Homo sapiens: one gene and its partner. The protein of the gene in region 2 purifies or fractionates together with the protein of the main gene of each other region. This does not show direct contact. Each region holds a gene or a part of one and is shown on either strand. Other genes may lie near its edges.

Evidence for each region.
Region 1: the proteins of TVP23A (region 2) and YIPF1 purify together in Homo sapiens (affinity purification with mass spectrometry; one large-scale study listed by BioGRID and IntAct). This does not show direct contact.

The regions. Positions count from the first base shown.
Region 1 is NC_000001.11:53,882,979-53,886,797, forward strand, and holds part of YIPF1 (protein YIPF1), read right to left. Parts: intron 299-3,819; coding exon 135-298; intron 1-134.
Region 2 is NC_000016.10:10,808,499-10,812,317, forward strand, and holds part of TVP23A (Golgi apparatus membrane protein TVP23 homolog A), read right to left. Parts: intron 109-3,819; exon of another isoform or gene 39-108; intron 1-38.

The DNA of each region.
Region 1 (3,819 bases), on a different chromosome or scaffold from region 2:
AGGAAGAGGCCATGTGTCATTTACCTCTGAGCTGTCATTGCCTGACACTGTACCTGGCACACAGTAGACAGTGAATAAGCACATAAACAAGCTTTAAAAATTGTTTAAAAAATATCTCAAAGACAAGTTCAAACCTCAGTTTTGTCAGAGTCATCATTTCCCAGTAACTCATCATCTTCTTCTCTTCCTGAGCCTCTTGGGGATCCTGGCTGATGTTTTGGGGTTTCACCAGGATCCTCAATGTTTACTGTGGTGGCATCTGGGTTTGCTGTCAGAGAAGTGGCTGCATTGCCAAATTCTGAAATCAATTAGAGCACACGGGCCTCAGAAACCTTACCCACACTAGAAATGCTATACTTTGAATTTAAAGACAAGCTGTCACAACCTCAGCTTTGCTATAGACCCTACCTGATACAAAGGGCAAAAGCTTTGAAAAACAAAAAATCTCATCAGGAGATCAATCTGATATAGAAAAATGACTATGAAGACAACAGAATTTGGAGTCAGACCTAGATTTTGGTTCTGGCTCAGCTAGCCACTTACTAAATACACAAGCCTGAGTAAGTAACTAAACCCCTCTAAACCTCAGTGTTTTCATCTGTATCATGGGGAGAATAACATTTATTTTAAATAATTTTGGGAGAACAAGGAATATAATCTAAGTCCTAAACTTTACTTCTTTGATTCAAGTCCAAAAAATTTTAATGAAGGTTATTTTTTCCAGTAAGTCTACATAATCACTACAGAAAATATGGGAACAAAAATGAAAGTGGGATCAGCTGCGCACAGTGACTCACGCCTGTAATCCCAGCACTTTGGGAGGCCAAGGCAGGCGGATCACCTGAGGTCAGGAGTTCGACCAGCCTGGCCAACATGGTGAAATGCTGTCTCTACTAAAAATACAAAAATTAGCCGGGTGTAGTGGCACATGCCTTGTAATCCCAGTTATGCTGGAGGCTGAGACAGGAGAATCACTTGAACCCAGGAGGCAAAGGTTGCAGTGAGCCGAGATCACACCACTGCACTCCAGCCTGTGTGACAGAGTGAGACTATGTCTCAAAAAAAAAGGAAAAAAGAAAGTAGAAATCACAGGATAAAAACCACTCTTAGGCCAGGCATGGTGGCTCATGTCTATAATTCCAGCACTTTGGGAGGCCAAGGCAAGAGGACTGCTCGAGCCTCAGAGGTAGAGGCTGCAGTGAGCCGTGATCATACCACTGTACTCCAGCCTGGGCAAGAGAGTAAGACTTTGTCTCAAAAAAAAAAAAAAAAACCCAAAAAACAAAAAAACACTCTTAGTTCTACCACATAAAGGCAAACACTATTAACATTTTAGTATATTTCCTTTTCTTCACATAGTGAGATTCATGCCACTGATGATCATTCATTTATTCAACAAATATTTACTGCATGCCCACAATGTGCCAAGTACTGATCTAGAACATGATACTATAATTAATTTTGCATCCTGCTTTGTCAAGATTATGTAAAATTGGGGATTATACACAAAAATGATTTTTCATATAACAGTCTCTTAAAATGATCACTTATGTGACTGCATAATATTCCATCAATGAAGGTTTTCTTACAAATACAAAAGGAGTGTCTGTGTAGAAAAAGCTTTTTGGGGGGCAGCCTTAAGATGAACACCTATCAGTGTGATCACTAGGTCAACAGGGTGCAAACCATTTTCAAGGATCCTGAACCATGTTACCAAACTGCTTTCCAAAAGAACCTTACCTACTTGTGTCCACCAGCAGTGATTGAGACTTCCTGTCTCCGAATATCCTAACATACTTTATTTCAGCTGCTCTTGAATAAAATTCAGGGCAGCTCTGAACCTTCGAAGGCCAAAGGAAGAGTGCCAGCAGGGCACCATTATAACACTACAAGCAGGGCACCAGTCCTAGCAGTAGGACAGCTGAGTTCACTCTTATTGCCTCTCAACTATATGAGCAGTTTTATGGAGAACACTAAAGTGACTGAAATTAATCAGGTAGCTAATATGCAACAATTACTGAAGCCTCAATTGGCAATGTTTGGGTAGTTTAAGCAACATGAGGTTCTGGAGTGAGATGGTCCTTTGTTCAAGGTAAGACTCTTAATACTCAGTAGCTCCATGACCTTGAGCAAATTACTCCATGGCTCTGAGTCTCTGTTTCTTCAATTATAAAACATAGATAATACCTACCCCACAAAGAGATTTTGAGGATGATGAAATAATAACTATCATTACAGGTACCTCTTATTGATTGTACAGGGCAATGACATTTAAAAAGATAGTCACAACTTTGCTGGAGGGAATTAGACCAAGGAAGATATACTTAACTCTCACAGTTAAAAAGCAGTAGTTAAAATAACTAGAAAAGTATAACTGAAGCTGGGCGTGGTGGCACACACAAACTGGTGGTCCCAGCTACTTGGGACGCTGAGGCAGGAGAATCGCTTGAACCCAGGAGGCAGAGGTTGCAGTGAGCCGAGATCGCACCACTGCACTCCAGCCTGGCAACAGAGTGAGACTCTGTCTCACAAAAAAAGAAAGAAAAGTAAAGTATAACTGGGCTGGATGCAGTGGCTCACGCCTGTAATCCCAGCACTTTGGGAGGCTGAGGCGAGCAGATCACTTGAGGTCAGGAGTTCGAGACCAGGCTGGCCAACATGGTAAAAACCCATCTCTACTAAAAACATAAAAATTAGCTAGGCATGTTGGTGGACACGTGTAATCCCAGCTACTCAGGAGGGTGAGGCACAAGAATCGCTTGAAATGGGAGGTGAAGGATGCAATGATCTGAGATCATGTCACTGCACTCCAGCCTGGGTGACAGAGCGAGACTCGGTCTCAAAAAAAAAAAAAAAAAAAGAGAGAAAAAGAGTATAATTGGATTGTTTGTAATACAAAGGATAAATGCTTGAAGTGATGGACACCCTGTTTACCCTGATGCAATTACTACACATTACATGCCTGTATCAAAATATATGAGTGTACCCTGTAAGTATATATACCTACTACATACCCATGAAAATTAAAAAATTTTTAAAAAGCAGTAGTTTACCAGGGGGAAGGAATGCCAGAAGGAGGAACAGACAGTACCACTTTAGAAGCACAAAGGTCAAAAAGGCCCCAAGGAGGGCGATAACTCCTCTAGTTATTGGGATCAGGAAAGGTTTCTTGGAGAAGATACCATATGAGAAGGATGGCCAGAGGTGCTGGGGATGGCATCTCATGCAAAGGGAAGGGGATGAGCAAGACCCAGAAGATGGAAAGTGTGCCCGTGATGGAGGGACAGTGACGGCATAGTTTGACTGGAGTGTGGGCTGCGTGTACCCCTAACATGACGACTCTTCACACAGTCTGCTCTGTGCTGGTTATTCTTGTCCATCTCAGCTCCTTGAGCATAAAACTGGTATGTGTCTTATTTCTGCCACCAACATTCTCTGCTTTTACATCCTGGCATATCCTAAGCTAGTTTCAGCCTCTGCTCCTTTCCTGAAACAATGCCTTTCACCTGAAGGCTTCTGACCTCTACTTTTTCATCCAATACTACCGTTCCTCCCCGGAGAAGCCTTTCATGACCCACCCCCCGCCACCCCACCCCCAGCATCCTGTGTGCTTTTCTAAAGACCCAAGTCCTTAACACAGTTGATAAAGCCCTGGGTGATTTGTCACCTGCCTCCTCCTAAGCCTCACCTTGTGTCAGCTTTCCCCACCATCCGTGATCTGGAACACAAGTGTTCTCCCAATCCTTTAGGAAAAAAATTAAACTTCCTCACTCCACAGGGGCTTTTGCGAGGGCCACTGTCTTTAAACTTTCTTGCACT
Region 2 (3,819 bases):
CAAGAAATAATAAGCAGGCTGGGTGCAGTGGCTCATACCTTTAATCCCAGCACTTTGGGAGGCCAAGGCAGGAGGATCACTGAGGCTAGGAGTTTTGAGACCCGGTCTCTACAAAAAATAAAAATAAAATTAGCAGGGTGTAGTAGTGCATGCTTGTATTCCCAGCTACTGAGGAGGCTGAGAAGGGAGGATTGCTTGAGCTCAGGGGGTTGAGGCTGCAGTGAGCCATGATTACACCACTGCACTCCAGCCTGGGCAACAGAACAAGATCTTATCCCCCCACAACTCCCCAAAAGAAAAAGAAACACTGGTCAAACCCCACAAACAAAACCAGCTCTGACAGCTGAGACCAAAATTAGATCTAAGAAATCTGTCTGTGGCAGGAAGAGACTTTCCTACTTTGGGTGGAAATTCATGGAAGCCCATGACCTTTGGGTTCGGAGGAATTCTGTGAAAACAGTGCCTTGAAAGCATAACATAACTTTCCACAGGAAGACAGTTTCCAACTCCAGGAGAACTCCAGTGTGATGGGGTGAGCTGAGAACATGCCTCTGCACAGCCCAGGATGCGGAAGTCACACTCGTGATCAGAATAACAGGTGCCACTTCTGAAGCCCACAAGGGGCATCAGGAGCCCTGCCAGGTCCCCTAAACACATTGTGCACCTCATTTAATCATCTTTTTACAACCTTATAATACAGCCAACATCAACCCCATTTTACAGAAAAGAAAAGTGGGTACCCAGAAGGTGTCATGGTCACTGTTCAAGTTCAAGGTCACTGTGAGTCAAGGGTTAACATCGGGCCTGGGCTGATGGGGGCCTGCCTGGGAATGACCCTGGCCTCCCGTAGCACAGAGGCTCCACGAGGACTGTTGTATCTGCCACCCACTGCCCCTGCACTGGAGGGACTGAGTTGGCCAGCAGGCCTTGGGTCTGGGTAAACAGAGTCATAGAAAAGGTTGGTGGGAAACGGAGGCTACAGCTTCTGTGATTCAAGGTAACCCATAGTGCTTTGGCTCTCGCCTGTGGCAGCCAGACACAATTCTTGCAGTAGTAGAGCAAAAGGAGCTATGTGGGTGCAGGGGCTAGATCTCCCAATGAGCTGAAGATGCCCTACCTCTGTCTTCCTATAGAGCTGAGGAAACATAGTTTTATATCAAAGCCTATTTGCACCTGCCAGCTTGGGCCCAGAACTGTACTGTGGGGGTGCAGTCACTTGGCTAGGGAGTGGTAGAATCAAGATCCAGGTCTGTCTGACCTAAAGCCCAGGCTCCTCCTGCATCCCAAGGCAGCTGGAAACCCACAACACTCACTCACAGCTGGTCTGCAACACAGCACGGCTAAAACAGAGTTACCATGTGGCCCAGCAATTCCACTCCTAGGTATGTGCCCAAAAGAACCAAAAATGTATGCCCCAAAAAAAGCACGTACATAAACATTCATAGCAACATTACTCATAACAACACAAAAGCAGAAACAACTCAAATGCCCATCAATGTATGAATGGATAAACAGAATGTGGTATGTCCACACAATGGGTGATTATTTGACCATCAAAAGGAATGAAATAATGGTAAACACCTAAACCGGGATGAACCTGGAAAATATGCTAAGTGAAAGAAGCCAGACAAAAAGCCACATATTGTACAAAACATGTGTCACCTAGACTGGGCTAAGGGATACCCAGATCACATCTGGGTCTGTGAAGGTGTTTCTAGGAAAAAAAAAAAATTAGCATTTGAATTGGTGGACGGAGAAAAGAAGATCCACCCTCATGCAGTGGCTCATGGCTGTAATCCCAGCACTTTGAGAGGCCAAGGTGGGAGGATCACTTGAGCTCTGGAGCTCAAGACCAGCCTGGGCAACATAGTGATCCCGTCTCTACAAAAAATAGAAAAATTAGGCAGGCGTGGTGGTGCATGCCTGTAGTCCCAGCTACTCAGGAGGCTGAGGCAGGAGGATCAATTGAGCCCGGGAGGTGGAGGCTGCAGTGAGTTGAGATCACACCATGGTATTCCAGCCTGGGTGACAGAGCAAGACCCTGTCTCAAAAAAAAAAAAAAAGAAAAGAAAAGAAAAGAAAAAAGAAGGCCCTCCCTTCCCAATCTGGATGGGCATTATCCAAACCTTTGAGGGCCTGAATACGACAACAAAGAAAGGAAGAGGGAATTTCCTCTCCCTGCTTGAGCTAGGATAGCCGTCCTCATCTCCTCTCAGACATCATACCTCCTGGTTTTGGGGCCTTTGGAGTCAGACTAGGCCTTACACGTCGGCCCCTCTGTTCTGGGGCTTTCAGATTCAGAATGAGACACTGTAGGCTCCCCTGGTTCCCAGGCCTTCGGGCTAGGATGGGTTTTATGCCACCGGCGTTCCTGGGCCTGCTGCTTGTGGATGGCAGATCGTGGGACTTCTCAGTCTCCAAAATTGCATGAATGAATTCCTCATAATAAATCTCTTTCTCCATACTTACAGATATCCTATTGGTTTTGTTTCTTTGGAGATCCATGACTAACCCAGATTTCATTTACATGAAATGTCCGGAACAGGCAAATTCATAGGAACAGAAAGTAGACTAGTGGTTCCCAGGGGCTTGGGGAAAGGGAAGATGGGTAGGGACTGTCTGATGGGTACAGGGCTCCCATTTGGCGCAGTGAAAAACTTCTGGAACTACATAGTAGTAATGGATGTACAACCTTGTGAATGTATCAAAATCAAAACTGAATCATACACTTTTAAAGAAGAAATTGGTGGAATGTGAATTATATTTCTTTTTATTTATTTTGTTTTTTGAGACAGGATCTTGCTCTGTCACCCAGGCTAGAGTGCAGTGGTGTGATAATGGCTTACTGCAGCCTTGACCTCCCAGGCTCAAGCAATCTTCCTACCTCAGCCTCCCAAGTACCTGGGACTACAGGTGTGTGCCACCACGTCTGGCTACTTTTTGTATTTTCTGTAGATAACGGGGTTTTGCCATGTTGCTCAGGCTGGTCTCAAACTCCTGGCCTCAAGCAATCCACCTGACTCAGCCTCCCAAAGTGCTGGAACTACAGGCATGAGCCACAGTGCCTGGCCATGAATTATATTATATTAAATTAAACACACACACACACACACATACACTGACACTAAAAGCAAAGGAAACAAAAGGTACAAATCGGCCACTTTAGGAGGCCGAGGCGGGCGGATCACGAGGTCAGGAGATCGAGACCATCCTGGCTAACATGGTGAAACCCCGTCTCTACTAAAAATACAAAAAGTTAGCCGGGCATGGTGGCTGGCACCTGTAGTCCCATCTACTCGGCAGGCTGAGGCAGGAGAATGGCGTGAACCCGGGAAGTGGAGCTTGCAGTGAGCCAAGATCACGCCACTGCACTCCAGCCTGGGGGACAGAGCAAGACTCCGTCTCAAAAAAAAAAAAAAAAAAAAAGTACAAAAAGGCAAACGGAATTACATTAAACCTAAAAACTTTTGTGCATCAGAAGACACAACCAACAGAATGAAAAGGCAGCCTATAGAATAAGAGAAAATATTAATATACAGAATAAAGACCTCAACAACAAAAATCCGATAACTGATTAAAAAAAACGGGCAAGAGACTTGAATAGACATTTCTCCAAAGGTGATATACAAGTGGACACATAGCACATGAAAAAATGCTCAGCAGCATCATTAACCATTAGGGATATGCCAATCTACACCACAACGAAATACCATGGTTATCACACCCATGAGGTGGTTACTATCAAAAACACAGTCAATAACAATGTTGGCAAGGATGCGGAGAAACTGGGACCCTTGTACAGTGTTGATGGGATTGTAA